3 separate regions of the Homo sapiens genome follow, and all the other regions are linked to region 2. The links come from fine-mapping of genetic effects on gene expression. A gene starts in region 2. Each other region holds a variant in brackets. All regions are shown on one strand. Distances are between the middles of the regions. Region 1 holds the start of LOC124902034 (a long non-coding RNA gene). Region 2 holds the start of LYNX1 (Ly6/neurotoxin 1). Region 3 overlaps ZC3H3 (zinc finger CCCH-type containing 3).

Region 1 (10,171 bases), 250 kb before region 2:
GTTCAGTCCTCAGTTCCCCCTTATCTGGGTCTCTGTGATAGCAGTCGGCATTTTCCACCGGGTGGGGGTTTCTGAAAGACTTGAGAATGTATGTTATGCTTTAGTTTCTATAGGGAAGCAAACCACCTGTGGCTGTGGCCTGCTTGGGAGACCCGTGCTCCCGTCGCCTTCCTGGCAGGCTGCTCACTTACCTTTCAAGGCTGGCAAGGTGACTGGAATTTCCCTTGAAGGGATTCAAGAGTGTTCCTTGATTTCCAAGCTTGGGAGAGCCTGGCAGGCACCTAGGAGGGGTCCCTGCTCCATCTCACTATGTTGCCCATGTGGGTCTTGAACTCCTGGGCTCCAGCCGTCCTCCTGCCTCAGCCTTCTGAGTAGTGGGGACTACAGCTGTGGGCCACTGTGTAACCGCCCAGTGGGTTCGCCTCATTGTATTCACTCCTTTCCAGGTTTGTATTTATGGTATGAATTTTAATTTCACCACAAAAACTTAAATCTCCCACAAGACAGAACTTTTTTTTTTTTTTTGAGACGGAGTCTTGCTCTGTCGCCCAGGCTGGAATGCAATGGCGTGAGAGGCCTTCTGGGTTCAAGTGATTCTCCCATCTCAGCCTCCCTAGTAGCTGGGATTACAGGCATGTGCCACCACACCTTGCTAATTTTTTTTGTATTTTTAGTAGAGATGGAGTTTCACCATGTTGGTCAGGCTGGTCTTGAACTCCTGACCTCAGGTGATCCGCCCCCCTCGGCCTCCCAAAGTGCTGGGATTACAGACGTAAGCCACCGCGCCGGCCACTATTTTATCTTTTTTAATAGAATTGATGTTCATTTAGACTCACCACATTTCTACGAATCTGTGCTTCATCACTTGAGGTATCTCTGATTCTGAATGGGACCATTTTCCTTCTGGCTAAAGATCACTGTTTTTTTTTCTGAGATGTAGTCTCGCTCTGTTGCCCAGGCTGGCGTGCAGTGGCGAGATCTTGGCTCGCTGCAACCTCCGCCTCCTGGGTTCAAGTGGTTCTCCTGCTTCAGCCTCCCAAGTAGCTGGGATCACAGGTGCGTGCCACCACACCCGGCTAATTTTTGTATTTTTGGTAAAGATGGGGTTTCACCATGTTGGCCAGGCTGGTCTTCAACTCCTGACCTTAAGTGATTCACCCACCTCAGCCTCCCAAAGTGCTGGGATTACAGGCACAAGCCACTGTGCCCGGCCTAAAGATCACTTTTTTTTTTTTTTTTTGAGATGGAGTTTTGCTCTTGTTGCCCAGGCTGGAGCGCAATGGCACAATCTCAGCTCACCACAACCTCTGCCTCCTGGGTTCAAGCGATTCTCCTGCCTCAGCGTCCTGAGTAGCTGGGGCTACCCGCATGCGCCACCACGCCCGGCTAATTTTTTTGTATTTTTAGTAGAGACAGGTTTCTCCATGTTGGTCAGGCTGGTCTGGAACTCCTGGACTCAAGCGATCCTTCTGCCTAGGCCTCCCAAAGTGCTGGGATTACAGGTGAGAGCCACCATGCACCATGTCCAGCCTAAAGATCACTTTTCTTTTCTTTTTCTTTTTTTTGTTTGAGACAGAGTCTGTCTCTGTCGCCAGGCTGGAGTGCAGTGGCATGATCTTGGCTCACTGCAACTTCTGCCTCCGGGTTCAAGCAATTCCCTACCTCAGCCTCCCGAGTAGCCGGGATTACAGGTGCCCACCACCACACTCAGCTAATTTTAGTAGAGACGGGGTTTCACCGTCTTGGCAAGGCTGGTCTTGAACTCCTGACCTTGTGATCCACCCGCCTTGGCCTCCCAAAGTGCTGGAATTACAGGCATGAGCCACCGTGCCCGAAAAGACTTTTTAAAAGACCTTCTTGGCCGGTGCTGTGGCTCACACCTGTAGTCCCAGCATTCCTTGATCAAGGGAGTTCAAGACCAGCTGGGGCAACAGGGAGAAACCCCGCCTCTATGAAAATACAAAAATTAGCTGGGCATGGTGGTGCACACCTGTCATCCTAGCTACTTCGGGGACAGAGGTGGGAGGATCGCTTGAGCCTGGGTCAAGGCTACAATAAGCTGTGTTCCCGCCACTGCACTCCAAAGTGAGATCCTGTCTAAAATAAATAAATAAATAAATAAATTAAAAAAAGATTTTCTTTTAGTGCAAGTATATTGGGGACAACCTTTCTGTCTGACAGTCTTTCTTCCATTGCCTGTGGAACTCAGGGCTGTCATCTCTCCTGGCTTCCACAGTTGTCCTTCTCACTACCGACCCCTGGTGGCTGATCTTTTTCTCTGGCTGTTGACAGGACTTTTTTCTTTGGTCTTCTGCATTTTCACGGGTGCATGTGGGGCTATTTATTTGTTGATGCTGCCTGGAATTTTCTGGGCTGCTTGATCTGTGGCTGGACGCACTTTATCAGTTCTGGAAATGTCTCAGCTATTAGGTCTTCAATATTGCTTCTGCGCTATTCGCTCAGCTATTTGGGGAACTGTCTCCGTGTATCTGCTATCTTTGTATATTTCTTAATTTTTCTACTATTGAGTATGGATCAGGCACTGAGGGGAAGTCCGTCAGAAGGATTTTCCACAGATCCCTCTCCTCCCCAGGTGGGAAGGCAGATCCCAAGCTTTCCTCCATGGAGGAGGCTGGTTCTCCCAAAGGCATCTGGGTGCTTTCTGGAGAGGGAATGGTGGCTGTGTGTTTTTAAATTGCGGACCAGGCCGGGTGCAGAGGCCCACGCTTACAATTCCAGCATTTTGGGAGGCTGAGGCAAGGGGATCACTTGAGCCCAAGAGTTCAAGATCAGCCTGGGCAACATAGTGAGATCCCATCTCTATAAATTTTTTTTTTTTAAATAGCTGGGGGTAGTGGCAGGTGCCTGTGGTCCCAGCTACTTGGAAGATGAGGCAGGAGGATCGCTTGAGCCTGGAAGGACTGCAGACTCGGCGCGGCCTGTTCTTTTCTGCTTGTCTCCTGATTGTCTCTGTGTCCCCACTGGCTTCAAGGTTCCCTGAAGGGGGCGGTCCTGGGGTGGGACCAAGGGGGTCGGGTGGGGCTTCCTGTGCCAGACACCCTCCTCTTTCACCCACAGGGCAGAAGTTCAGCTACACTAGCAAGGGCTGTGGCCCTCCCTGTGTGTCCAGATTATGAACCTCACCCATCCTGTGGTCCCTGGAGGGTCTTACCCCATAGAAACTGAGAATGGACTGATTGATTGAAGACTGAGAAGCTGGACATGACCTGCTGTGAAAAGAGCCTCTGTAACAAGGGCGTCAAGGGGGCAGAGGCTGTGGATGGGGGAGGTGGCACAGGGTCCTGCCTGGGCCTTACCTCCTGAGGTCCCCACAGGGGCTGAGTGGTGGGGGGCGGGTGAGGGGCAGTGCCAGGACTTGCTGCCCATCCTCCGGAGGCTCATCCGTGGGCAGATGCTGGGAAGTGGGGGCTGGATGGGGCTGCAGAGAGGAGGGCGCCCAGTTCCAGGCCAGTGTGGAGACTGGGAAATCCCTGGTGGGAGGCTCAGGTTCAGAGCCCTGAGATGAGCCTCCCTTCCTCTCCCTCCCCTCCCCTGCAGGTTGAGGTTGGGAGGGAGGTTGAGGCTGCAATGTGCTGTGATTGTACCACTGCACTCTAGCCTGGGTGACAGAGGGAGACCCTATCTCAAAAAACATAACAGGCCAGGTGTGGTGGCTCATGCCTGTAATCCCAGCACTTTGGGAAGCTGAGGCAGGCAAATCACTTGAAGTCAGGAGTTTGAGACCAGCCTAACATGGTGAAACCCCATCTCTACTAAAAATAAAAAAATTAGCCGGGCATGGTGGCGGGCGCCTGTAATCCCAGCTACTCGGGAGAATCGCTGGAACCCGGGAGGCGGAGGTTGCAGTGAGCCGAGATCGCGCCACTGCACTCCAGACTGGGCGACAGAGCAAGACTCCGTCTCAAAAACAAAATAAAACACAAAATAACCGCCCTGCCCATAAACTGGGGACCATGTACATAGAGGGTGTAAAATCAGTCGAGTGGGACACAATCAATACTCTTTCAAATAAAGTAGAAGATATCAGAGTTGATCACAGGAAGTGAGGATAACTTGCTGTGTGAAAGCCGTGCTTTCATTATCCATAGATACACAGAGTGCACACCTCTTGGGGATGCTCGTGCTCTGACTGGCATGTAACATGCACTGCTTATAGATGTCAGATTAAAACATATATTTTAAGATTCAAAAATACAAGTCAGTATCCCTAGCAATATTCTAACTTCTCCATTGCTTGGTGTTATGATGTCTGGCTCAGCCATCATCAGGCCCTGGGACCTGAGCAGTGTGGCCGCAGGGCCAGCAGAGTGACCCGTGGACCATGGGCCCCCCTGGCGCTGCCCCTTCAGGTCTGGCCTGTGCTCTGGTGTGCTGCCAGGCGGGGTGGTCAGGCCTCTTGGGTCCAAGCCTTGCCCACAGCTGCCCCGAGTCACTGGGGGGGTCTTCTGGGCCTGACGCCTCCAGCTCCGCCCTTGTCCTCCCTGCTCTCAGGAGCCACCCCCACCTCACCTGGCCCATCCTCTCAGATGCCATGGACTCTCCAAGCAGAGACCCCTGAGGGCACAGAGTGGATTCTGCTTTTCGGAAGGGACCACCCACCGGAGAGGCGACCCATCCTTATGCAGGTCTGCTGCCTTTATCTGTCTTCATCAAGGGCTCTGTCCCCACAGCCCAGGCAGCCCTCTCTTCCTTCTGCCCAGCACCTGGTTGGGGAGGGGGGGTGGAGTCTGCAGTCAGTCACCCCTGGCCCATTTCCTGTGTCTTCTGATTCTCCGTGAAGAACAAATTCGGGTGTGGGTGTGATGGGGGTGGGCAGGGGGGAGGGACAGGGGTGGTTCCGGTTGTGGCCAGGACAGAGTTCTGGACCCCTCCTCCCCTGCCCCAAGGGAGCCCCCATGTCGTCCCACCCCGTTACAGGGGCCTCTGCTCCCTGCACAGAAAACAAGGGGTGCCTGGCTTGGGGTCTCAGTGTCAGAGCTTGTTGCCCTGCTGGCCCCTCCCAGGCTCTGTCTGCACGGGGGCCTGCCAGTGGTGGGCTCAGCCAGAGACCCTCATCCTGAGCGGGAAGGGCCTGGTCCTGGGTGTGACCTGAGGTCTCACGGCTGCTTTTCTCTCCTGCTTCAGACACCAACACTGTGATGTACCAGGAA[A/G]CTGAAACTGAAACTCAAGGCCCTAGTCCAGGACCCTCCTCTCTATTGAGTCAGAACTTCTCCTAAGGCGTCCTCCCACCCCAGGGGACAACCTCTCCCTCCTCTCCTCACCGCAGCCCCTCCTCTCTTCACCGCAGCCCCTCCTCTCCTCACCGCAGCCCCTCCTCCCTCCGGATCTGTTCTGCTCACACCCTGAGCTCTGGGAGGCCCCAGGCAGAGAAGGGGTGGGGTGAGAGGGGTCTTGCTCAAGGTCATGTCTGCCTTCCAGAGCAGCCAGGTCAGGAAGGAAGGGTTTCTACCCCTCAATTCCCATTCTGTGAGATGATGGGATGAGGCCATCAGCTGTGTGCACTTTACACAAACAATCCGGGTTCCTCATCACAAACCAGAAGTGGGGCAGAGGTTCCCAGGCTCGGGGGTGCAAGGCCTCCCCTAGCTCTTCCCAGGCTCAGAGCCTCTGTGCCACACGTGCCCTCAATGCACCCATACCCAAGACCATGAAGGTCACTAGCCCCATGCTGCTGCTGGCTGAGGGTGGGGGATGGGAAGGAGGCCTGAAGGTGGGAGTAAGACCCTCTTGATGCTGGGGGCTCCAGATGCCAGCAGGACCCTGCCCACAATTCTGAGTAGCCAAGGGCACCTGAGCCTACCTGTGTGCTGCCCAGGCCTGCTGCCGGTGCTGGTGAGAGGGACTGGAACCCACCCTTCAGCCTGCGACCCTGACCTGCACCCTCCCCGCCCCATCCCAGGCCAGGGCCTTGAGTGCTTCCAGTGCTACGGTGTCCTGGACCCCAGCCTGTGTCACCCCGTCTCCTATCCCATGCAGGCTCAAAGCTGCCCCTCCTCTGTGGTCACTGGCACTATCGATGGTGAGTCCTGGGTGGGACCCAGCGTCTGTAGGCAGGTGAGGGGTGGGCAGGGCACTCTCTGGCAGCATCCCAGGGGCTCTGCCTTGAGCCCCCTGGCCTGGTGGAAGCTTAGATCTGGGGACAGAGCTCAGGGACCTCCATCTAATGGACTGCAGACTTGGTGTGGGGCCTGGGGCCGCCGCCCGTTCTCTTCTGCTCGCCTCCGCGTCCCCACTGGCTTCAAGGTTCCCTGAAGGGGGCGGTCCTGGGGCGGGTCCGAGGGGGTCGGGTGGGGCCTCCTGTGCCAGACACCCTCCTCTCTTGCCCACAGGGCAGAAGCTCAGCTACACTAGCAAGGGCTGTGGCCCCACTCTGTGCCCAGATTATGAACCTCACCCATCCTGTGGTCCCTGGAGGGTCTTACCCCACAGAAATTGAGGATAGACTGATTGACTCGAAGATTGAGAAGCTGGACATGACCTGCTGTGAAAATAGCCTCCGTAACAAGGCGGCCACAGTGCGGCGTGGCCTCTGGTGCCAGGCTGTCAGGGAGCTCCTGCTCAGCCTGAGCCCCTTCCTCTGGGCTCTGCTGTGAGCCCAGCCCGCCCTGGCACTGCCCCTGGTGGGTAAACAGGAGCTCAGGGTGGTTGCCCAGTGCAGCCCTCAGCTCCTGCCCCGATGCCCCCGCCTGGCCGCCCAGCAGCCCAGAGACCCCCTCACCCAGCATCCTAGCTGCCTGCTGGCTCAGATAGTAAATGCAGGTGTTCGCCCAAGGACTTTGTTCCCTTATTAACCCCTGGGGTCTGGCCTGCGGCCTTCAAGGTGTCCCAGCAAATTCCCCAGGGTGGGGCTCAGAGACTGGAGGGCCTTCCCCCAGGCAGCCCGGCCCTGCACTCATTTCCAGCCAGGATCGGGCTCAGCCCCAGCCCCGAGGTCCAGAAGCAGCCTGGAGGGTCTCGCACTCAGGGCTGGGGACCCCCAGGAAGACTTGCTGGGGGCTGACGGAGGGGTGGAGGCACCGTGGGCCCAGGCCTGCTGTGGCTGCCGGGTTTCCACGACTGTGGACAGCGTGTGAAATGGTCCCGGGCCCACAGGCTGGCGACTCCTGCAAGGCACCGCAGAGGGCGGGGGTGTCAAGGGGGCAGAGGCTGTGGATGGGGGAGGCAGCGCAGCGTCCTGCCTGGGCCTCACTGCAGGAAGTCCCCACAGGGGTTGAGCGGTGGGGGGTGGGTGAGGGGCAGCGCCGGGACGGGCCGCCCATCCTCCAGAGGCTCATCCGCGGGCAGATGCTGGGAAGCGGGGAAGCGGGGAAGTGGGGCTGGATGGGCTGCGGAGAGGAGGGGGCCCAGTTCCGGGCCGGTGTGGAGACTGGGAAATCCCAGGTCCTAGCGGGGTGCGGTGGGCCCTGGGCGGGAGGCTCAGGTCCAGAGCCCCGAAACGAAACGAGGCTCTCTTCCTCTCCCTCCCCCAGGCTTCAGGAAATTGAAACTCAGGCGCTGGGCTCCTCCCCTCTCTGCTCCAGGCCCAGGACACAACCCGGGCTCCCTCCCGCTGCTCCTGGAAACCACCTGTCCTTGGGGGGCCTCCAGCCTCCCGAGGGCGGGGCAGCAGGAACCCGGCGGGACTACCCTACCCACCACCAGCAGGAGGTCAGGGCTGCCTCTGACCTCAGCCCTAAACCCAGAGCAGAGGGAGAGCTGGGCCCCGAGTCCCAGATCCTAGGAGGACAAGCGGCTTCCACTCTGAGCCTGTCTCCCCTGGGGAAACGAGGGGATGACTGCGCCCCCGTCTCAGTGTGGTTGTGAGGCTCAGTAACCAGTCAGCTCACCTGGGAAGTGGAGGAGATGCCAGAGATGGAAGCGCAAGTTAGCTTTAGCAGAAACAAAGCATTTGTTAGAAATTCCATCATCGCCCAGCGCCCACCACGCTTCTGTTTCCCTGCAGTCAGATCCAGGTTCCCGGCCATGGCTTTTGGGTGCAGCTTCCTCTCACCAGCTCCACTATGATCAACTGTCTGTCCCTCCAGCAAAGCCACCTGCGATTCCGAGTGAACAATGCAGTGAACGCACTGCACACCGGGGCCCGAACACCGGGATCTCTGTCCTCCTGGCTACAGTGCCCAGGCTCCTGGACCATCTGGTTTCCACCCTCTGTTCTCTGCTTGCATTTCTCAATGCTAGAGCGACCCACTCAGCGAATCCAAACTCCCGACGGAATCTCAAGCTCAGTCTCTGCAGGCTGCTCTGATGGGCTCCGGGTCCTTGCACAGGGATAGCTGATCCACCGATCAGGCCCCTCCTCCCGCTGACCTCTTCCAGGCCCTCTCGCTCGGTTACAATGGGCCCCTCATGGGTGGCAGTAATGATTCATGTGTTTCAGACAGGAATCACTAGCTCAGGGACCCAGGAGGAGGACACAGGTCTTTGACCTGCCTTGACCTCAGGGACCTGGGAGGACCCGGCTATTCACATCAGCTGCCAGGGGTGGGAATCTCGGGCCTCCACGTTGACCACCGGCCCCTCCTGCTGGACGGTGCCCCTGGGATCCTGACACACACACACCACAGTTTCTGGCCAGCCGGGAAAATTCAGGGTCGGGCCCTAAGTGGCTGAGACCCTGGCCGGCTCCCTCCCACTGTCCCGGAGAAATGAACAAACACACCTCCACTGGGTGTCTGTTCTTGTTTTCTCTCTCCAGCCCAAAGAGCCCTCTGGGCAGCGCACAGCACCCAACTGCAGACACGGCGGCCTGGGCCGGCTTCCTCTGTCAGGAGGCTGCCACCTGTTTGCCAGGGGGAAGCGGGCAGCACTGCAGTCCAGGCACGGATGGGTCAGGGCTGCTGCCCAGAGCTTCTGCGTGGGAGCCCCCTGCCCCTCCCACAGGCCACTCACTACACTCCGGCCCGTCTGTCCTGCCCCAGCCCAGCTTTTGTACCCTCTGCACCAGCGGGTCCAGACAGACACCCTCCATTCCCAAGTCCTACGGCCCTGGGTGCTGCCCCAGCCTGAGCGTGCTCCTTCTTGCACCCGCTTTCTTTCCTCCATGCCCCCCAACACCTCCTTCCGCTGTGGGAGGAGGAACTCACTTGACCTGCTGAACCTGGGGCAGAAGAAAGGGCAGAGCACTGGGGAGGGGCTCCCTCTGAGGTCAGGCAAGCAGCTGGCTGTGGCTCAGGGGACGACTCCTCCTCCCCCACCACCCCCCTGGGCCATACCACAGAAGACCCCAGGACCCTCCAAACCTGGGGTGCTCTGCCTCTCCCCGCAAGGGGCAGCCACACTCAGAGCAGGAAGCTGGGGGACATCTGTATTTATTTGAGGCACCAAAGCAGCAGGAGGGCTCCAATGTGGGGGTGGGCTGGGGCAGGACTGGCTGGATTTGGGGCAGGGCCTAGACCCGGAAGTGGCAGAAACCCCAACCCCCAAAGGCTGCCCTTGAAGTGCATGCAGCTGTGCCAGGGCAGGGGGCTACAGGGACTGAGGCTCTCCAGGCTGCTGGCACACCTCCCTCCCCAAACATGGCCCCCAGAAGCCGCCACGTGCTCTCACGTGCACTGCACACCCACGTACACAGCCAGGCACACATCCCTACTGACACGGTCTCCCTGGGGACCCTGTCAGCATGTCCATGGGACTTGGTCCTGATGTTGGACCGTAAGACTCCAGGGAACCCTCGTCCCTTCCGCGGTCCCCCAAGGAAGGTCACATCATCCACCCCAGAAGTGAGGGCAGCTGGCCCCACTTGGGGCAGAGGCAGGGGCTGGGGCAGGTGGAGGTGCAGGGGGTGGGCCTGACCTGGGACCAAGGGCACAGATCAGGCACGTGAGGAGTCAGGGGCTCCCATACACTGTGGGATCCAGAAAGGGCTGGGCTTTCCTTCCTGAGCTGGGGGATCGGGGGACAGGGTCTGGGCGGTCAGGGGCCAAACCGCAGCAGGGCCGGCAGCAGGCTCAGCAGCAGCCCGGCACCCAGCAGGGTGACGCTTGCCCGCAGCCCGCCATCGGCCGCACTGAAATTGCACAGAAAGCTCTGGCAGCAGCTGATGCCCATGGAAGCCACACCAACATTGACGCCTTCTGGGATGGGGCAGGCCGGGGAACAGGTCTTGCTCAGGCTGTGGCCAAATGTCACGAGATTCCCTGCATGGGAAATG
Region 2 (10,171 bases):
AACCCTCCCTGCCTCTGGGCGACCTCACCTGGCCCATATTCCCTGCGTCATGCTCCCCGCCCCCTCCAGTCCAGCTTCACCCTGGTGAGGTCTGGCCAAGGGGCTGCTGGGTTCCCATGGATGGGGATGGGCCCAGGCAGCTGGACTTGCCCTGGGTGGTGGCTGTGGGTAGTCAGTGTCCACATGGCTCCGAGGCTGGGGTTGGGCCTGGGGTGTTCCAAGCCGGCCTCTCTGGAGGCTCTTGAACCCCAGTCTCAGGGACATGACCCAGGGTGAAGGGGTGAGGGCGCCCCTTCTCCCCTGAGTGCTGGCATGTGGGAGGGGCCTGCGAGTGCTCCTGGAGGTCTGAGTATGAGCGCCCTCTGGTGGCCACCGGAGAGCCGGGTGCCGGGGCTCCTGCACAGGGAAAATCCGCCTTCGCCCAGGCCAGTGCCGCTCATGGCCCCATCTGTGCCCTTTTCCACTCCACTCTGGACAGGTGGCCTGAGGCCTGCCAAGCGCCCAGGGCAGGGTGTGCGAAGGCACCTGGGCATGGGAGTCGGGCAGAGAGCAGAGGGGTAGGAGTGCCTAGGCCGCAGGCCCACCCATCCCCACTTCCGTATGGGGAAACTAAGGCTGGGCAAGGGAAAGTGACTCCTGCCACTTCACGGCAGGCTGGCTGCAGGAATCCTCATCCAGGGCCCAGGGAACGGGAGTGCTCTGTGTCCAGTGCAGCCTGGAGGCAGGCGGGAATGCCACCTCCCCTACCACTCCCACCCCTGAAAGGCAGGAAACGGGGGCTGTGGCCACCAAACTCCAGGAATGAAGGAAGAGGGAGTTCTGCTGGTGGGTCAGGGAAGACTGCAAAGCAGCAGCAGGTACAGGGACAACGAAGGCAGCATGGATGAGGCTGCGTGCGGGCCCTGGGCAAAGGCCCAGGAGTGGGAGCGAACCTGCAGGATCCAGAGAGGGCTAGGCTGCCCATGTGGCTGCAATGGGGCCTGGGAGCTGGCAGGACTCCAGACCAAGCCCAAGGACAGTCACAGCTCATAGCCCATCACTGCCCTCTGCCCTGTGCCTCCAGGGGTCCCTAGCTCAGTCTCCCAGCCTCCAGGCTGCTTCTCTGTGACCCTGCTGGACAGCTCCTCAACTGTCCTGGACACAACCTGACCCCAGCCCCAGCCCCAGCCAAGACTCTGTCAGGCATCTTCAGTCCCACACAGGGCCTGCAACCTTGTAGGTGTGGACAGCGCAGCTGGCCAGAGGGGGCCGACAGCCCTGCCCCCATGTCCTGAGTGCCCCTGAAGGAGGAGCTCCCTCTGCCAGAGCCCAAGCTCAGAACTTGCAGGGAGATGCTTAGGCATAGGATTGAGTGGTGGGGCCCCAAGGCACAGCCACTGAGGTTTGGCCAGCACCCAGGGGTGGGGCACTGTCCCTGTCATGGGGTGCATGGCTGACTCTCCTGGCCCATCACCGGATGCAATTTTCTCTATGCCTTAAAAATGGAAATGCTAAAAGCAGTCAAAGCACAATGTCCAGACAGAGGGCAGCTGTCAGGGAGACTGTGCAAAAGCAACTGACCAGGTCCTCTGAAAAGGGATCCTCCCTCCACCTGCTCGGAACTTCTGCTCTCCTCACCGTCCAGTCGGGCCTGAGCTCCCACCCGGCCCCCTCTGGCCAGCTGCGCTGTCCCCACCTACAAGGTTGCAGGCCCTGTGTGGGGCTGATGACGCCTGACAGCATCTTGGCTGAAAGGCCAGGTGGGAGAAAGAAAGGAGCATTATTCAGTCAGATCAGGGGGGCCCAAGAGCCTCCCTTAACGCCCAGTCTCGACAGCCAGATCCCACGGAGGGCTGGAGGGGCAGCCCCAGCCGCCCACTCCACTGGCCAGCCCCCAACTCAGAGGCAGCTAGCTTTGGTTTGCAAGAGGTCCTTTCTCTGGTCCTGCCATGGACAAGCCGGACTGGGGAGGGTTGTTGAGGTCCTCCTCCTGGAGGGGCATTCTCAAACATTGCTCTCATTGATTTTTCTCTATCTTCTTTTTCTACCTCACTTTTTTTTTTTTTTTTTTTTGCTTTTATTTTTGCTATTTTCTTCATTTTGCTTACCTTGGGTTTGATTTGCTCTTTTTGTTCTGGTTTCCGAGGGTGAAAGTTTAGGTGGTTTTTTTTGGAGAACTTCTTTCTCTTCCAAAAGAAGTTTTAGCTCTTTTTTTTCTAAAAGAAGCATTAGTGCAAAATTTCCCTCCAGGGCCCACTTCAGCTGCATCCTTTGACTTTGATGAATTGTGTTTGCATTTTCATTCAGTTGGAAATATTTTCTGATTTCCTTTTTGGTTTCTCCTTTGACCTATAAGTTGTTTAGAAATATGTTATTACTCAGTTTCTAAATATTTGATGATCTTTTAGATATATTTCTGTTATTGATTTCTAATTTAGCTCCATTGTAGTCCAAGCAAATAATCTGCATGATTTTAATCCGTATAAATTTACTGAGATTTGTTCTATGGCCCAGAATACAGTCTGCCTTGGAGGACATTATTGGTAAATAAAGGTGTGTTCCCCTTCTGTGAGGTGGAGTGTCCTACAAACATCAAGTTGGTCATGTTGACTGGTAATGTGATCCACGTCTTCATCCTTACAGACTTTTTGTCTATTTTTTATCAGTTCTCGAAAGAGGAGTGTTGAAATCTCTGTTATTGTGGATTTTCTTTTTCTCCTTTCAGTTCTATCAGATGTTGTTTGTTTTGCTTTGTGTATTTTGAAGCTTAATTGTTAGGTGCATACATATTTAGAACTGCTGAGTCCTCTTCATGAACTGATCAATTTATCATTTGGTAATGTCCCTCTTTTTAAATTTTTTTTCTTTCTTTCTAGTACAGATAGTGTTTTGCTGTTTTGCCCTGGCTGGTCTCAAACTCCTGGCCTCAAGCAATCCTCCCACCTCAGCCTCCCAAAGTGCTGGGATTGCAGATGAGAGCCACTACACCTGGCCAGTAATGCTCCTCTTTATTTCTGATTATAGTCTTTGCTTTAAACCTACTTTGATATTGACGTAGTCATGTCTGTGTTCTTTTAATTGGTGTTAGCATAGTATATCTCTCTCCATCTTTTTACTTTTATCTTATTTGTGTTTTTACATGTCTGGTGAGTTTCCCACTGACAGCATATACTTGGCTGTTTCTATTTTTATCCAATCTGACAACCTCTGTTTTTAATTGAGATGTTTTTGTTTGTTTTTGAGGCAGAGTCTCACTCACTCTGTCGCTCAGGCTGGAGTGCAGTGGCACCATCTCAGCTTACTGCAACCTCTGCCTCCCAGGTTCAAGCAATTCTCCTGCCTCAGCCTCCCAAGTAGCTGGGATTACAGGCACCCACCGCCATGCCCAGCTAATTTTTGTATTTTTTAGTAGAGAGGGAGTTTCACCATGTTGGCCAGGCTGGTCTGGAACTCCTGACTTCAAGTGATCCACCTTCCTCAGCCTTTCAAAGTGTTGGGATTACAGGTTAGGATTACAGGTGTGAGCCACCGTGCTCAGCCTGATTGAAGTGTTTAGATGACATAGTGTCATTATTGCTGTGGCTGGGTTTAAATATATGTCATCTTGCTATTTGTTTTCTATTTGTCTCATTGTTTTTTCCTTTCTCCTCTTCTGCAGTCTCTGTAACATGTGCTTTTATAAATAAATAATTCTGTATCATCACTTTTGTTGATTTATTAACTACAGTGCTTTGACTTTTGCTTTTTTCTTTGTCTTTTTTTAGTGACACTTTAGCGTCTTAGCATACACCTTTGACTTACTAGTCTACCTCCAAGAAATAGTAGGCCACTTCACATAGAGTAGAATAAATCTACAACAGTGAACTTCCATTGTCCCTCTCCTGGTCTATTTGTATTACTATTTTTTTTTAAATTTATTTGACACAGCGTCTTGCTCTATCACCCAGGCTTCAGTGCAGTAGCGTGATCACAGCTCACTGCAACCTCCACCTCCTGGGTTCAAGTGATTCTCCCACCTCAGCCTCCTGGGTGCAACCTCAGGTGTGCACCACCACACCCAGCTAATTTTTTGGTATTTTTTTTTTTTTAGAGATGAGGTCTCTCTACGTTGCCCAGCCAAGCCTGGTCTTGAACTCCTGGGCTCAAGCGATCCACTCGCCTCAGCCTCCCAAAGTGCTGGGATTACAGGCGTGAGCCGCGGTGCCCAGCCTGCACTACTATTATCATACAATTTACTTCTACATTTGCTATAAATTCCTTAATACATTGTTATTATTTTTGCTTTAGGTAATCAACTATCTTTTAACTTGATTCAAAAATAAGAAAAAAATTACCTTCTATTTCCTATTTCTGGTGTCATTTATTCCTTTGTGTAGATCCGTATTTCTGCCTGAAGAACTTCCTTTAACATAAAGGTCCCCAACCCCTGGGTCACAGACCGGTTAGGAACCACGCCACACAGCAGGAGGCGAGCGCTGGCGGGCGGGCAAGGGAAGTTTCATCCGTATTAATTCATCGTGGTCTGAGGCTGAAGACCGCGACATACTCTGGTTCTGACCTATGCGTTCCTTCCACGCCCCTTATCCCACCAGAGTGTGAGCTCCATGGGGTGGGAATATTCTGGAACGTCTGCTGGTTTTATTCTTTGCCTTCTCCCCAACTAGGACCTGGCACAGGAGGGTGCGCATTACCTCTCGGCAAACAGAACAACTAACTGGCCTAGTTTGCTGGGGACCGAAGGATTTCCTGGAACCGGAGCCCGCTTGCCCAGCAGGCATGGTGTATTCTGTACCTCAGGCCCGCAAAAATGTTTTAAAGAAAAAAATGAGCTTTAGGGTAGAAGAAAAGGTTTTATTTTTCTTTCTCACATTGGAAAAAATGAAAACTTTCGGACCCATGAAATTTTATTACATTTTGCCAAAAACAGAACCAATAACATAAGTATTCAAAGTTATGTAAAGATAATTATTTAATATGAACATTATGATGGTGAGAGGGACCACGGAGCAAGGGGCTGCCTTGCAGGCCTGCCTTCCAGCTTTGCTACAGGGACCAGAAGCGGGAGCTGAGCGCAGGGGAGGCAGGCGGAGGCCATGGGCAGCGAGGCGGGTGCGCCAAAGGGCGCCAGTTCCGGAGCTGCTGGGCCTGGGCTGCAGGAGGGCGGAGCTGGGGCCGCAAGGCTGGTGCCGGCCGACAAACGACGCGGCGCGGGCGAGTGGGCGGAGGCGGCTGCGGGGAAGGCTGGGCTGCCGCGGGACGCGGTGAAGATAGCCTGCGGAGTGTCCGGGCTGAACACGTGAGTCTGAGGGTCGCCAGGGAATCACTGCGTGGCTGCCTCTGTGTCGGAGATCCAGATGCCTGGACTGGCCTCGGGGTCCCAGCGCTTGCCCGGCGAGCCGGCGGTCCGGGGACGGGTCCGGGCCGAGGCCTGCGGTGAACTCGGCTCGGCGGGTGCCCAGGAGGCGGGTCCGGGGCGGGGCCTGCGGTGAACTCGGCTCGGCGGGTGCCCAGGAGGCGGGTCCGGGGCGGGGCCTGCGGTGAACTCGGCTCGGCGGGTGCCCAGGAGGCGGGTCCGGGGCGGGGCCTGCGGTGAACTCGGCTCGGCGGGTGCCCAGGAGGCGGGGCAGGGGCGGGGCCTGCAGTGAGCGCGGCTTGGTGAGTAGCCCAGGAGGCGGGTCCGGGGCGGGGCCTGCGGTGAGCTCGGCTCGGGGGGTTGCTCAGGAGGTGGGGCCGGGGCAGGCCTGGGGCGGGGCCTGCGGTGAGCTCGCGCTGGGCGGGCTGTTCCGGGGGCGGGACTGGGCTGGGCCTGCGGTGAGCATCAGGCGATGCGGCACGGGTGCTGCGGGACACACAGACACGCCTACGATTAGACTCAGGCAGGCACCTACCGGCGAGCGGCCGCGGGTGACTCCCAGGCGCGGCGGTACCTCACGGTGGTGAAGGTCACAGGTGAGGTCACCCTGATAGTCCCGCTCGCGCCGAGAGCCCTCCCCTCGACCTGGGACCGCAGTGTTTGGGGCGGGGCTCTCCGTGAGGGGGTTGGGAAGCTCGAAGCCGCAGGCCTGACTCTGGCCTTTGGCATCCTGGGGTTGGCCTGGGCAAATGTGTCGTGAGAGACGGATTTGTTGTTCTCGGGAAGGCGTAAGTTTAATTTAGTCCTCCAGGACGGAGACCGAGGGCCGAGTATCCCGGCAGGGGTAGGAGAGCCGTAATCCAACCCCCACCTCCCCACTGTAAACCTCTTTCCAGAGAGGGCATTCCCGTTCCAAACACCAGACCCAGCCGGGGAAATGCTTCTTCTTGTCTGGCCCAAGTGCCCTCCTGGGAGGGGCTCAAAATGCATTCCCCCCAAGCTGGGCACAGCTCATCCCTGCTGGGGAGCTTCTGCAGTGGCCGAGGACTCAGACAACCCTAACCAGGGCTCTGGAGGTCTTCTGGAAGAAGGAACCCCAAGTAGGGACACCCCAGGAGCAGAGAGGAGGGGAACAGCGAGAAGAGACCCAGCTTTTGGGCCCAGTCCTGCCATGGCCAGCCATCCGGCCCCCAGGGCCCTGCTTGGGATGGGGCTGCAGACCACCTCCCATGGGACCTCTGCACCAACCATCCCCTGGGTAAAATCCTTGTTTAGGCCTGGTATTTAAGGCCCCTCTGCCCATCCCTACTCCTTCTCTAGCACTGCCCCTCATCCTCCCCCCATCTCTCCTCCATCCAGCGCTACAGGCTGTTTTGAGCTTTTGCAGGTGCTGGTCTCTGATTGAAATGTCCTGATCTCTTCTCCCTTCTTGTCCCATCCCAAGTGTCTCCTCCTCCAGGAAACCTTCCCTGACACCCACTGAGTTAGGTGGCCCCTCTGCCCACCATCATCCCTGCCCAGGCCCCCATGGGTCCTTCAGGCCCAGTACTGACCACCTGTCTTTGCCACCTGCTGTGCAGGGTTGCAGCACTCCCAGTAGACCAGGAGCTCCGGGAGGCAGGGCCGGCCCCACGTCCTCTGCGCACCACCCTGAGTTGGATCCTCTGTGCGCCACCCCTGAGTTGGATCCAGGGCTAGCTGCTGTTGACCTCCCCACTCCCACGCTGCCCTCCTGCCTGCAGCCATGACGCCCCTGCTCACCCTGATCCTGGTGGTCCTCATGGGCTTACCTCTGGGTAAGATGGACAAAGGACAGAGGGATGGGCAGACCCACTTTGAGGGCAGATGGGCTGACAGTAGGGAAGGAGGCTAGAATTCCCAGCGACAACCCCTCCTTCTAGCCCCCTGCCCCGGGGAAGGTGACGGGCTGGGGGCCTGATGGGCTGGAGGAGGGGCCTCTCATGTTCTGTGACCCCCGTTCCCTTCCCGCCCATCTGCCAACCCCAGCCCAGGCCTTGGACTGCCACGTGTGTGCCTACAACGGAGACAACTGCTTCAACCCCATGCGCTGCCCGGCTATGGTTGCCTACTGCATGACCACGCGCACCTGTGAGTCTGGGGGCCCTGCGTGGCCCTGCCTGGGGAGCACGAAGGGGAGGTTCTGCCCTGCCCCTGAGCATGCGGGGGTCCTGAGGAAGGAGGCTCTCCTGTTCCCGGATCCTGTCTGGGAGCTCCAGGCTGAGGGGCCCTGCCCTGATGGCTGTGGATGCTGGGGTGGGGCCAGCTGGGTCTCCTGCCCCTCTTAGCGGAGCTGGCTCACCGCCCCGCCCCTCTGCAGACTACACCCCCACCAGGATGAAGGTCAGTAAGTCCTGCGTGCCCCGCTGCTTCGAGACTGTGTATGATGGCTACTCCAAGCACGCGTCCACCACCTCCTGCTGCCAGTACGACCTCTGCAACGGCACCGGCCTTGCCACCCCGGCCACCCTGGCCCTGGCCCCCATCCTCCTGGCCACCCTCTGGGGTCTCCTCTAAAGCCCCCGAGGCAGACCCACTCAAGAACAAAGCTCTCGAGACACACTGCTACACCCTCGCACCCAGCTCACCCTGCCTCACCCTCCACACTCCCTGCGACCTCCTCAGCCATGCCCAGGGTCAGGACTGTGGGCAAGAAGACACCCGACCTCCCCCAACCACCACACGACCTCACTTCGAGGCCTTGACCTTTCGATGCTGTGTGGGATCCCAAAAGTGTCCGGCTTTGATGGGCTGATCAGCCCCTCGCCTGTCCAGGGCTATTTATGGGGAGGGGCCCAGTCAGGCAGGGAGCACTGAGCAGATGGGAGCTGTGGCCAAGCCCACCTTCTGGGAAGCCCTAGGAGAGGCCCCTGCCTCAGTCTGCCCCTGGTGTGCTGGGGCAGGGGGAAGACAAGGAATGCCCGCAGGTGGGGTGGTGGGGAGACTCTTAGGAGGAAAGGCTCCTCCAGGCCTAGTCACGCTTCCTACTGAGGCCAGGAGCTGCCAGGACCGGTACGGGATCAGGGCTGTGGGAGGAGGGCCTTTGGCACCGGCCCCTGTGCTAGGAAGTCTGCCAGGCCCGAGTTGGAGCCACCCCCTGCAGGGGAGGGGGCGGCTCTGCCTCAGCAGGCCCCAGGGCCCCCGAAGTCACAGAAGCTTTTTCGGGTCCAGCAAGGGGTGTGTGTCCTCTCAGTCAAACCCCTTGACGTTTCCCACCCCCTCACGGGGAGGGCACCAGGCCTGAAGCTGGCAGGAGCTAGGGCCATGCTATATTTGGTGGGTCCTGGACGCTGACCCGGCCAGCGCTATTCTGGGCAGGGAGGGAAAGGGGCAGAGCAGGTGGTCCCCCGAGTCCTGGTCCCCAACCACAGCAGGACCCAGCCGAGCAAGGCAAAAGACGCAGGACTGGGGGATGCGCGCACAGGCTGGGGGTTGGGAGCAGCCTGGGGCCGGCGCGGGCCTGGGCGTGGGAAGGCGGAGCATGCCACCCTCTCGTGGCCGTGCGGGGGCGGGAGTGGGGAGGGTGGGGTGGGGAGGGCGGAGACCCAGCCCCTCCCCCGCAGCGGGATGCGCACAGTGAGTGGGTCCCTCCATCACCTTCCACCTGGGGATGCACCCACTGGGAGGGCAGGGTGGAAGCCCCAGCTGGGTGTGTGGACTCCCAGGGACCCCACCCCAGGCCTGGGAAGCAGGGGTCAGCCCAACACGCACCAATCCATCCCCGATGCAGGTAGCCCAGGGAGCACCTGCCCCTGCTGTGAATGGGGCATTCGGGGGCGTGAGACCTTTTGGTGCCAGCGGTCACGCTGCACCTGAGGCCCCCACCTGACCAGTGCTCCCAGCTCTGGTGTCCTGAGAAACCCTTCAAGCCATCCCGCATGGGCAGGATGGTGACATATCCATGTGGTAGGATTGTCCCGGCCCCAAAGTATGGCCCTGGTCAGGGGAGCCCCTGCTGGAAATTGCATCTCCAGAGCTTTGATGCAGGACCCCTGGGGGATCAGGGAATGAGGGTCTCCACCCCAGGGGTCTCCTTGCAGTGAGTCTATATGCAGGCCTGCGTTCTGCTCCTGGGGCTGGTTCTGAGTGCCCAGCTTCAGTCTCCTGAGAACATGAGGATGGGAGGGGGCAGAGTCTTGCTGAGGGCACACCCAGTTCCCGCTGGAGGAGGACAGTGCCAGTCTTCTGCAAAGGGACCTTGGGTGGGAACGGGCCCGGAGCGGGAGGAACGTGACTCCCCAGAGGGAAGATGGGCATCATACTGGGCCCAGAGCTGGGAAGGAGTTGCTGCCAGCACAGGGTGGGCCTGGACTCCCCTCGCCCCTACCCCCAGTGGTTGTGGCTGTAGCCCTAAGCCTGGAGAGCAGGACCGGCCCGGGGTGTCTGGGAGGCTGCCAGGTGCCTCCCAGAGCTCCCAAGGGCCCCCACCTGCAAGTGCCAGCCTCAGGGCAGTGCCCAAATGAGGCCCTCTCAGCTGCAGCCAGCGATGCCTTGGGATGCTTACCGGGAGGGAGGCGGCTTTGGGCTCCTAAGTCCTTGGGAGAGGCTGGGAGCAGTCACTGCGCGGCTTGCGCAAGCCCATTGTCGGGTTGGGTGGCTTCCTCAGCCAGGGCTGGGAGGGACTCCAGGATCAGGTCCTCCCTGTCTCGAGTCTCAGTGGGGTGATGGGGAGGAGACCTGGCCACCCATGGCTCAGGGGCAGCTGAGAACAAGGACCTGCTGGAGCTGGAAGTGCTGTGGTGTTGAGGGGTGGGGTGGGCAGCTTCTCACACCTGCCTCCTGCCTCCTTCTGTCCACCTTTCCACCACCCTGACCTGTCCC
Region 3 (9,841 bases), 750 kb before region 2:
TATGTCGCCTGCCACCGAGCCGGGCCCACCTCCCCACCAAGGAAGGTATGCTGGGAGCAGGGGCGCTGGGCACTGGGGCTGGGCCTGCCTGATGGGATATGCTGGCGTGTTAGGAGCCATGGGCACCTTCCCTGCCTCATGCTGGTAGAGGCCCTGGCTGGGAGGGCACTGCCTGGCAGACGGTGGTGGTGGGCTGGCAGATAGAGGATAGGGCCCGGATGCTGCGCCCTGCAGTCTGGCTGTGGGATGTGCTGCTGGGCAGGTGCTGTGGCCTCTTCTGTGTGTCCCTTGGTATGGACCCAGCTGTGTCCCTCCTGAGGGAGGAGAGGGCGGCGGCTGCTGAGCCCTTAAGCAGGGGTGAAGCCCTCGCTTGTGCTGCGCTGGGCACCCCCAGGCCTCTGCCTCCTCCAGGGCCCTTCTGTGCTCAGCTGGCTGGGGCTGCAGGTCTACCTGCCCTGCCCTTTCTGAGTGTCACATGGTACTGTGTGAGTTTTTTGAGTGGCCTGAAAGAATTGGTCTGGTCTCCTGCTGTACCACTCTAAGTGTGCCCAGTCACGCCTGGAGAGAACTGGTCTGAGCCCCTGAGAGCCCCTGTGGTGGCCTGGGAAGGCCCCGGCCTGCAGATTGTGGGGCGTAGCCCCTTTGAGGTTGACCCCCACTGCGGTGATGTTTGCCAGGACACACTGGGGGAGCGGCCTCCAGGCGGGCACGTGGTTGGGGGTATGTGGTGAGGGTCTAGAGCCCTTGGGTGTGGCACCCCCCAGACACCGTGGGGGTCAGTGTGGAGCCACGTTCGTCTGTGTGCACCTGGTCCTGTGCGACTCTGGGGCTCTGCTGGGCGCGTTAGGGCAGTGACTTCCCGAGCTCGTGTCTGTGACATCTGGAGAAGGTGGGGCGTTGGGGATTGAGCAGGCTTGGACCTGGGCACTCCGACTGGGAACCGGTGCTCAGAAATCTAGCCAAGGCTGGGCGCGGTTGCTCATGGCTGTAATCCCAGCTCTTTGGGAGGCCAAGGTGGGAAGATCACTTGAGGCCAGGAGTTCAAGACCAGCCTGGGCAACATGGCAAAACCCCATCTTTACCAAAAATACAAAAATTAGCTGGGCATGGTGGCACATGCCTGTAATCCCAGCTACTCGGGAGGCTGAGGGAGGAGAATTGCTTGAGCCTGGGAGGTTGCAGTGAGCCGAGATCGTTCCATTGCATTCCAGTCTGGGCGACAGAACGAGACTCTGTCTCAAAAAAAAAAGAAACCCAGCCAAGCGTACCGTCATCTAGGGAGGCTTCAGACGGCTCTGGAAGGAGCTGGGCCTGGGCAGACCCAAGAGCCGTGTGGGGGCTGCCGCGGGAGGGCAGGGCGTTGGGTCCCAGGTGGAGGGCTGAATGGGGCGATGCAGCCGGGTGTTGCAGCACAGTGGGGTGGGAGGAAGTGGGGCTGGGGGCGCTGGTCGGCTGTACCCCGTTAGCCGACACCTGCTGCACGCCAGGACATGTGGATTTCATCCTGGTGACAGGGAGCAAGCAGAGACCCATGCGGTCCCTGGTGGCCACAGTGAGGTGGCCGGATGGTGGTTAGGTCGTGGGCTTATCTGGGAGTGGATGGTAGGGGTGGCTTGGACAGTTGGCGGTATCCCCTGGTCACTTGGGGAGGAGGGGTTGGGGAGGTGTCCAGCTCTGGGAGGCCAGCAGGGTCTGCTGAGCCCTAGGAGGCCAAGGCTTGCAGATGGCGTGGTGGTTGGGGTGAGAGGCTCCCCACTGGGTGCAGGTTCAGCCCTGCTCACCTGGCCTGCTCCCTCTTCAGGCCTCTAGTAGAGTGGGGCATAGGCAGGGGATGGGGGAGGTTGCTTCCTGCTGGTGGGGCCTTGCTCGGCGCCCCCCGGACTCCTGCCAGGAAGAGTGGGTTTGGGAGGCCACCAGCTTCACCGGCTGACCATTTCGGAGTGCACAGCTGAGGGGCTGCTGCGGTCCTGCCTCACTAGAGGGAAGGGCGTAATTGATCTCGTCGTTTTTTTTTTTTTTTTTAATGTTTTTAGAAACAGGGCCCTGCTTCCCTCCCAGGCCAGAGTACAGTGGTGCAGTCACAGCTCATTGCAGCCTCAACCTCCTGGGCTCAAGTGACCCTGCTGAATAGCTGGGACTACAGGTGCATGTCACTGTGCCTGGCTAATTTTTAATTTTTTTGTAGGGACAGGGTCTTGCTTTGTTGCCTAGGCTGGTCTTGAACTTCTGGGCTCAAGTGATCCTCCTGCCTTAGTCTCTTAAAGTGCTGGGATTACAGGTGTGAGCCACTGTGCCCAGCCAAACTCATAGTTAAAGACCAACGTGAGGCTGGGCGTGGTGGCTCATGCCTGTAATCCCAGCACACTGGGAGGCCGAGGCGGGTGGATCACCTGAGGTCAGGAGTTCAAGACCAGCCTTGGCAACATGGCAAAACCCCGTCTCTACTAAAAATACAAAAATTAGCTGGGTGTGGTGGCGAGCGTCTGTAATCCCATCTACTCGGGAGGCTGAGGCAGGAGAATCACTTGAACCCAGGAGGCAGAGGTTAGATCGTGCCATTGTACTCCAGCCTGGGCGACAGAGTGACATTTTGTCTCAAAAAAAAAAAAAAAAAAAGACCAGCGTGGCGGCTGCATGGAGTGAGAGGAGAGGGTCCTGTCTGAGGAAGGGGTGGGGAAGGCGTCCCACTCACTTGCCCACCACTGGCCCAACTGGCAAGCGTGGTTGAGTCACTGTGCCTGGCAGCCTGCCGGCTCCTGGGGATACTGCAGTGAAGGTGAAGAGATGATGAGGCTGGAGCCGCCTTCCAGTGGTGGAGACAGGCAGCCACTGGAGTGCTTGTACATCAGCCAGGAAGGTGCTCCTGGGTGGAAAATGCCTTCTGAGGAACAGGCAGGGGGAGAGCACAGGGCCAGCTGCAGAGAGGTGGTTGGCGAGTGGGAGGGCTTCTCTGAGGAGGTGACCTGAGCAGAGAGGAGCGAATAGGGCTCAGCTCTGAGGCCGAGGTGGAGGTGGGAACGAGCTTACTGTGTTCTGGAGCACAAGGAGGCTGTGGGGCCAGTTCACCATCTGGGAGTGTGGCTTGGAGGGGATGCAGCCAACGGGGCAGAGGGACCAGGTCCTGGGAAAGGGTCTTGTAGGCCACAGGAGGGAACGGGGGGTTGGTTCTGGTTACGTTGGGAAGCCAGGGAGGGACAGGGGAGGACCCTGGGAGGGGCGTGTCCAGGGCCCCGGGGTGTCTGGCAGGCCCGAGTGGGCAGAGTCGGGAGGACCTGTGCGTGAGGCCACTGACGCCAGGCCAAGGAGCGGAGTCCGCAGGCTCTCAAGCAGGCAGGGAGCCCGTGGAGATGTGCGCGGAGGTGAGAGGCCGAGCCTGCGTCCTGGCCTGGTCACTCAGGCGGCTGACCCCAGAGACAGCCACCGTGAGACTCCAAGCTGGCCGCAGGGGAGGTGGGCGTGGCCAGGGCGTCTGCTGAGGAGATGGGAGGCTGGGGCCCAGGAAGCTGTTGAGTGGCTCCCCCAGGTGCCCTCCTGCAAGGCCCACCGTCTCCATGCCTGCCTGCCTGCCTAGGAACTGAGGCCTGCCTGTCCTCTGCCTTGGCCAGTGGGCTTCTGGGCAGGGCCCAGCTTTGTTTCGTTGAACGCTGCAGTGCTCTGGTGAGCCAGTGAGCCCTTCCCAGGCCCTCCTTCAGCCCTCCCGGGTGGCCAAGGCCTCCATCGGCTGGGGTGTTCGTTCCTGGATGCTGGGGTCGTGTGGGCTGTGGATGGGGCAGCCAGGTGGGACTGCTCCTTCATTTGGCTGTT[G/T]GGAGTTTTCTTTCCCCATTTTCTGCCCAGCAAAAGCTTAGTTCCAGCTCCACCTCTCCTCTTCAAGGAGACGGCAGTGTCCCAGTGTCCAGCTGGGGACGACTGCCCTGTGGACTTATGCACCAGGGACAGGGGCTTCTGAAAGCTGCCAGGCAGCCCTGCTGCCGCCTCCCTCCCCCGCCGCACTTCAGCCTTGCCGTGCGGCCCAGTGGCCAGCAGAGGGCATGCTTGCCCCTCCTATCGCCTCCGTCCACCCTTTTTTGGTAATCGCGTAATTTCCTTTTTATGTGAAAGAAAGCAGATACCAAGTAATTTGCAGCAATAACCTGCTAATGCTGGGCCAGTATCGAAACTCCCCTGTTCATTTCAAGTGGCAGATAAAACGCTAATACATAATTATCCTTGCAAATTGGATTATTTTAAATAACCAAAAGGCTACGGCCAGGAGAAAGCGATCCCATCTCCCCTGAGTTACTATTGCAGCGTAATTGCCGCGTTCAATCAATTTCCCTGGCATTAGAAATTCCGTCACAATCAACATTAAGCTTTATTCATTGTGATGGCTAAGAGCCGGGCCATTTCTCCTCTTTTTCTTAACTGGCAAAATTAATCAGGGAAAAGATTTTAAACATTTACCCGTGCGAAAGAGGTCAGCCCTGCCACTATATTGCTCAGCAGATAAGGGGGCTAATAAAAAGAAAATTGAATTACTAATGATCACCAAGAACAGAGTATATAAAACCTGGCCATCGCCAGTTCAGGAAAAGGGAGAATCAATTTTCTTGGGACAAGGTGCGTTCATTTTTTATTTTGGCGCATATTATCAGCAATTTAATTTGAGAGGCATAAACAGGAGGAAACAGTTAGGGAATAATGAGCCTGGAGGTGTAAAGTGCCACAGGATATATGCTGTACACAATTTATTTGGCACAACAGATAATCGCTTTAATTGAATTCAAAAGTGCATTGTTCAGCAGCACTGTGGCCGCTCACGCCTGGGGACTGAGACTGTTTGGAAGGTTTCAGCCTGACTCTTCGGTGCCTCTCCTCCCCTCCCTGCCTCTCCCGGCCCTCCGAAGTCCTCTGGGCCTGGAGTCAGACCTCGGCTGGGGGCGGGGCAGGGGATTCCTGGGGGTCTCTTCCTCTGCTGTCAGTGTGCCCCTTGCCTTCCGTTTCTTCCTTCCCTTTTCTCCTGGGGATGGGTCTGTTGGCAGCTGGGGGATGAGGATGTGAGACACTGGCCGGGTGCCGAGGCTCATGCCTGGAATCCCAACACTTTGGGAGGCTGAGGCGGGTGATTACTTGAACCCAGGAGGTCAAGACCAGCCTGGGCAACGTGGCAAAACCCCATCTCTACAAAAAATGCGAGAATTAGCCGGGCATGGTGGCACACGCCTGTAGTCCCAGCTACTCGGGAGGCTGGGGTGAGAGGATTGCTTAGGTCTGGGAGGTTGAGGCTCTAGTGAGCCATGATCGCACCACTGCACTGCAACCTGGGTGACAGAATGAGACCCTGTCTCAAAAAAAAAAAAAAAAAAAAAGGAGATAGAAGACAGCCCCAGAAGGGTGGCCTGGGCGAGTAATGTTTGCTGGAGGCTGCAGTAGAGACCTGCCTGGGTTGATCTGTCTCTGGTGGACCGATGCTAGAGGGGGCATTTGGGCAGAAGAGAAGAAAACCTTTTTGGAGTCTGAAAAATGGTGTCCTGTTTGCCACTCACATAACTGTGGCAATCAGTGTTCTCGAGTACAGTGTTTACAGTACACACGGCTGAGCACTGTGGCCAGGCTCTCACTGTGGTGCGGGGGAAGTGGGGCCAGCTTCGTGGTACATCCTCCTGGGGCCCGTCGCTGTGCTCGGCCACCCTGAGATGACAGGCATGACTCCCTAAGCCTGGCCGGCCTGTGCAGAGGGATGCTGTCCAGGCTGTACACTCCAGGCCAGGCCAGGAGTGAGGGCCAGCTCTCCCACCCACCACCCTGTGCCCAGGCTGGGGAGCTTCTTGGTGGCGGGAGGTGATGGGATTCCTACCAGCCACATGGAAACGTCTGCTATTTTACGCCAGGGAAAAGTCATGGTAGGTGGGTAGGCAGTGGTGTCGTCATCTGCTGGAGTGGGAGGGCCCTCTCTGCTTCACCCACCCAGGATGGTGGATGCATGCCGGTGGCCTGCCCCCTTCCCCCGTGGCCTGGAATAAGCCCAGGGCCCTGCCTGGGAAGCAGCCGCCTTCCCAGACTTGTCGCCAGTGTGCTGGTGGAGGGTGCGGGCCTGGCAGGTCCTGGGCACACCTGTGGTGGACAGAAAGGGCCTGGCTTGCGTGGTGGTCTCGTGTGGACAACCAGGCTGGGTCGAGGCCTGCCGGCTGCCCAGGCTTTGACAGGAGCCAGGCCGGGCATCTGCCTCTGGCCCAGAGCTTGCTGTACACACGGAGGGCGATTCCTACCCGTCCCTCAGTCTGCCGTGCCCGCCCCTGGGTGTGGAGGAACTGCTGTCAGCATTTGCAGATGAGAAGTGGAGTCTCCACTCACCCCAGCTCACTGGCAGAAAGGGCAGGCGTGGGTCTTGGACCCACCTCTGGCTGGTGTCACTAGGTGCCAGGGCTGTCCTGCCTGGGTGACTCTTTTGGGGCCTGGATGCCCATTCCCCGAGTCCGAGTTTCTCTGAGGAAGTGCTTAGGGAGAGCCTGTGTGAGCTGTTGGCCCTCAGCCCCTCCCTGCCACCAGGTGGTCGTGGCTTCCCCCAGCCCCAGAGCAGGACCCAGGTGGGACCTGAGAGGCTGGGGTCCCTCAGGCACACGGCGCTCTCTGGATACTGGGTCTCACCCTCTAGCCCTGGTGAAGCCAAAGGCAGCCTCCCCAGAGCCCTGGCCGCCCGCCCAGTCCTGTGTGGGGTCTCCCCCCGACTGTGGTGCGACATTTCCTGGAACGCTGCCTCCTGACTTCTCGGTCTCAGAAGGGCCTGCCTTGACGGCTGTTCATGTGACCTCTCTGAGTCCTCAGAGGTCCCTGGGGCCCTCCTGTGTCCTTGGGTCCTCCCTGTGCACACGATCCTTTCTGTGTTGCCTCCCGGTGCCTTGGAGAGGGGGTGGTTTGCCACGCAGCCCTGGCATCAGAGGCCTGGGTGGATTCTGCACCCAGCCCGTGCTGTGGCTTTGCACTGTTTGGCCACAGATGCTTATGGGGGTGTCACTGAGCAGGCACCAGCTTGGGAGTGTGATGGCCCCCTACCCCTCTGTCCCTCTGTCCCCAGCGGCTTCTCCCGGTGACCAGCGCAGCCTGTGGATTCCAGTGCATGGGAAAAACCCAACCGCTTTCTCTCGACTGGCCCTGCCCCACCTCGAAGGCCCGGCTTGCTCCAACCAGGCCCAACCTCTGGCCAGGCCCGTCCCCCACCCTTAGGTGTGCACAGTTTGCTCCCCTCATTCGGGAGTCTGTGAGGTGGGCCGTGGTCCATTCTGCCAGGCCAGCTCCTCTAAGATCGCGTGCCAGCCACCCCGCCACCATGGGCATTCCTTCCTCCTGCCTCATGTTTTGTATTGCAGGAATTGCCGGCTTATTGTCCGTCCTGCCTGTTAAGAAGGTGCTGTGGGGAGCACCCTGGCCGCCCTGCGTGCACGTGAGCCTCAGGCTGCGGCAGCTCCTGGTGAGGGTGAGGCGCCCCCCCTCCCAGAGGACTGGACCTGGGCAGAAGGGAGGGCCTCGCTCCCTCAGGAGGCCCCATGGGCAGGCCATGGGCGGGAAGGTGGGGCAGTCACCATGCTTAGCGGGCAACCGAGGGGTGAGGGCCTGGCAGAGGGCTGCCCACCAGGAGGAAAAGCCACACAGGGCTCCCTGCCCTGACGCTGTCCTGCCCCTTTGAGATGTGCAGGCCGGTGGAGGTCGGCAGCAGCACTCAGAGGCTCAGTGAGCAAGTGGGCAGAGTGCCACCAGCCTCGATCCCCGGCCTCCAGCAGAGGGGCTGGTTTCTGTGCCATCCTCGCCGTAACCTCCTGTGCCAGGCTGCTGGGAGGCCTTTCTGAGCCTGGCGATCTCCCCGGGAGGCTGGCCGTGGATGGAATGTGAGGCATGGGTGGAGCCCTGACCTGCTGCACAGAGCCTGAGGATGGAAGCTTGACCGTGGAGGGTGTCTGTCGCTGCCTGGCCGAGGCGTGGCCGCTGGCCCCACAGCGCCTCGGCAGTGCCGCCTGGCTTCTGTTGTGAGTTGGCTGGGTCTGGGTCCCAGCCTTGTGGGGAGCTGGAGCGCTGTGGTCAGAAACAATATGGCTCCCCTGCCCTGCGCAGAGATGAGTGGCGGCCCCCGAGGAGGCAGGAGCACGCAGGGCCCGAGGTGCACCGCAGGGTGGTTGCCAGGGTGGGCTTGCTGTGTCTTGGCAGTGGGGGAGGGTGCCAGGGCCAGAGGGGCCGGAGACTCTCCCCTGGCCCCAGCGAGAGTGAGGAGCAGGCACCCTGTCCCATGCTGCTAGGTACTGGGGAGCAGCCCCATGTCCGGTGCTGGAGGCCTGGACCTTTGCCGGATGCAGGAGGCAGGGTTATGAGCCCCCAGGCGTGGTGTGGGCGTGGCCTGGCGGGAGACTTTGGCCCTGTCTGCCCGTTCTCCTTGCTGGTGCTCGGTGCCCTATCTGTGAATGGGGTCAGGAATGTTTGCTGTGGGGCTGAGCGGTGCCTTTGGGTGCTTTGGCCCGGTGTGATGTTCCTGCTGGGCTGTGCTGCTGGCCAGCATTGCCCACCTGGGAGGCTCTGCCTGGTGCCTCTGGGGTATGTGATCCACCATTGCTTGCTGTGTGCAGCTGGGCTGTTCAATTTTACTGCGGTGAACCCCGTGAAAGGGCATGAGAGCAGTTAGATCTGGAGTCCTGCTTTCATAAGGGAAAAAGAAAATGCTGAATTAGGCTTCAGGAAAGGCAGCCACAGCGATCTTTGAATCTTGCATAAATTATCAGGCATGCCGGCGGCCTCCAGTTTTGCGTGGGTTGTGGCTGTGCTAATTAATTACTTCACAGAACTGGCGTGGGATCGCGTGTGTGCCGTGGTGGTGCTGCACTGTGCTGTGGGTGCCAAGCTGAAGACCTGGGCTGCGCAGGCAGGGTGGCGTTCTCAGGAGAGCCAGAACTCATACCACCGTAGGACCCTGGGTCCCCACACTGGGGACAGCTTGGGCTGCTCCTTTTGTTGAATGGATTGAGGTAGTCCTCTTGTCCCTCTCTTCCCAGCCCAGGGCTGGCACATCCCCCCAGTCACGTGTCTTGGCAGACTTTGAATCAAGTGCAGGACACCTGTCCGAGAGCCTGGGTAGGTCCCTCACCCTGGTGGCCTCTCTCAGGAGTCCACCAGGCAGTGGGTGTTGGGGTGCAGGACACAGGCTCTGTCACCACCTGCTAACCCCCACCAGGCAGCCAGGGGCACGTTGCCAAGTGCTCGGGTGGCGGGTGGGCACGGCACAGGGCCGTCCCGATGGCCACCCCTGCTGGCCTGGTCCTCCTCCCACTCTGCCCGCCTGTCCTCTTCCTGTGCCGGCCTCTCAGGGGTCTATCTTCAGGCATGGCCAGCAGGGCTTGTGCTGCTTGCCTCCTGCTTGCCTCCTGGCGGTGTCTTTTCACCAGCTCTCGGTTCTCCCACCAAAGTAATGGGGGCATGGCTCTGCCAGCCTCAGCTGGCCTCCTGTTGAGGGACTGGGGAGTGGGTGTGGCTCTGGGCACTGAGGCGGCTTTCCAGCTGGGGACGAATGTGGCCTGCACCTTCTGGGATTTGGCCCCTTCTCTGCATGGGGTCAGGATGTTGCTGGGCCCCTGTTTAGTCCCCTGCTGGGGCTGTAGCCTTCTGTGCCCCATCTGCTGCCCGTAAGTGGCCCCTGCCAGCCTCCTCTGTCTCTCCACCTTGACCCTTGCCTGAGGGCCCCTGCTGTGGTCCCACAGGTGGGTCGTGGCAAAGCTGGGTGTGGTCAGAGTCCATGTGGACTTGGGCATCGTCTGGGAACCCCGTGATCCCCACTGGTTGTTTCCCCCTGCACCAAGTCCAATCGCGTGCTGGGCGGGGTCCTGAT

The links. PIP is the estimated chance that this variant, and not a neighbour inherited with it, causes the effect.
Region 1: its variant is fine-mapped to the expression of LYNX1 in whole blood (TOPMed, PIP 0.92).
Region 3: its variant is fine-mapped to the expression of LYNX1 in liver (GTEx, PIP 0.99).

The regions. Positions count from the first base shown.
Region 1 is chr8:143,021,552-143,031,722 of GRCh38, reverse strand. It overlaps LY6E (lymphocyte antigen 6 family member E), which reads right to left. Exons shown (of 4, transcript NM_002346.3): 4 at 9,314-10,157. The coding sequence ends at 9,934. It overlaps LOC124902034 (a long non-coding RNA gene), which reads right to left and starts at 990. Exons shown (of 2, transcript XR_007061135.1): 1 at 837-990; 2 at 1-79. RefSeq lists enhancers at 4,643-5,405, 6,168-6,931, 6,932-7,693, 7,694-8,457. The variant A/G (reference allele first, on the strand shown) is at 5,172.
Region 2 is chr8:142,772,863-142,783,033 of GRCh38, reverse strand. LYNX1 (Ly6/neurotoxin 1) reads left to right here and starts at 5,832. Exons shown (of 4, transcript NM_177477.4): 1 at 5,832-5,928; 2 at 6,913-7,128; 3 at 7,340-7,441; 4 at 7,671-10,171. The coding sequence starts at 7,077. The coding sequence ends at 7,867. It overlaps LYNX1-SLURP2 (LYNX1-SLURP2 readthrough), which reads left to right and starts at 5,162. Exons shown (of 5, transcript NM_023946.5): 1 at 5,162-5,275; 2 at 6,913-7,128; 3 at 7,340-7,441. The coding sequence starts at 7,077. RefSeq lists a silencer at 335-384.
Region 3 is chr8:143,526,461-143,536,301 of GRCh38, reverse strand. It overlaps ZC3H3 (zinc finger CCCH-type containing 3), which reads left to right. Exons shown (of 12, transcript NM_015117.3): 3 at 1-45. Among named protein-coding and RNA genes, the nearest start is that of ZC3H3, 10 kb to the left of the region's middle. The variant G/T (reference allele first, on the strand shown) is at 3,805.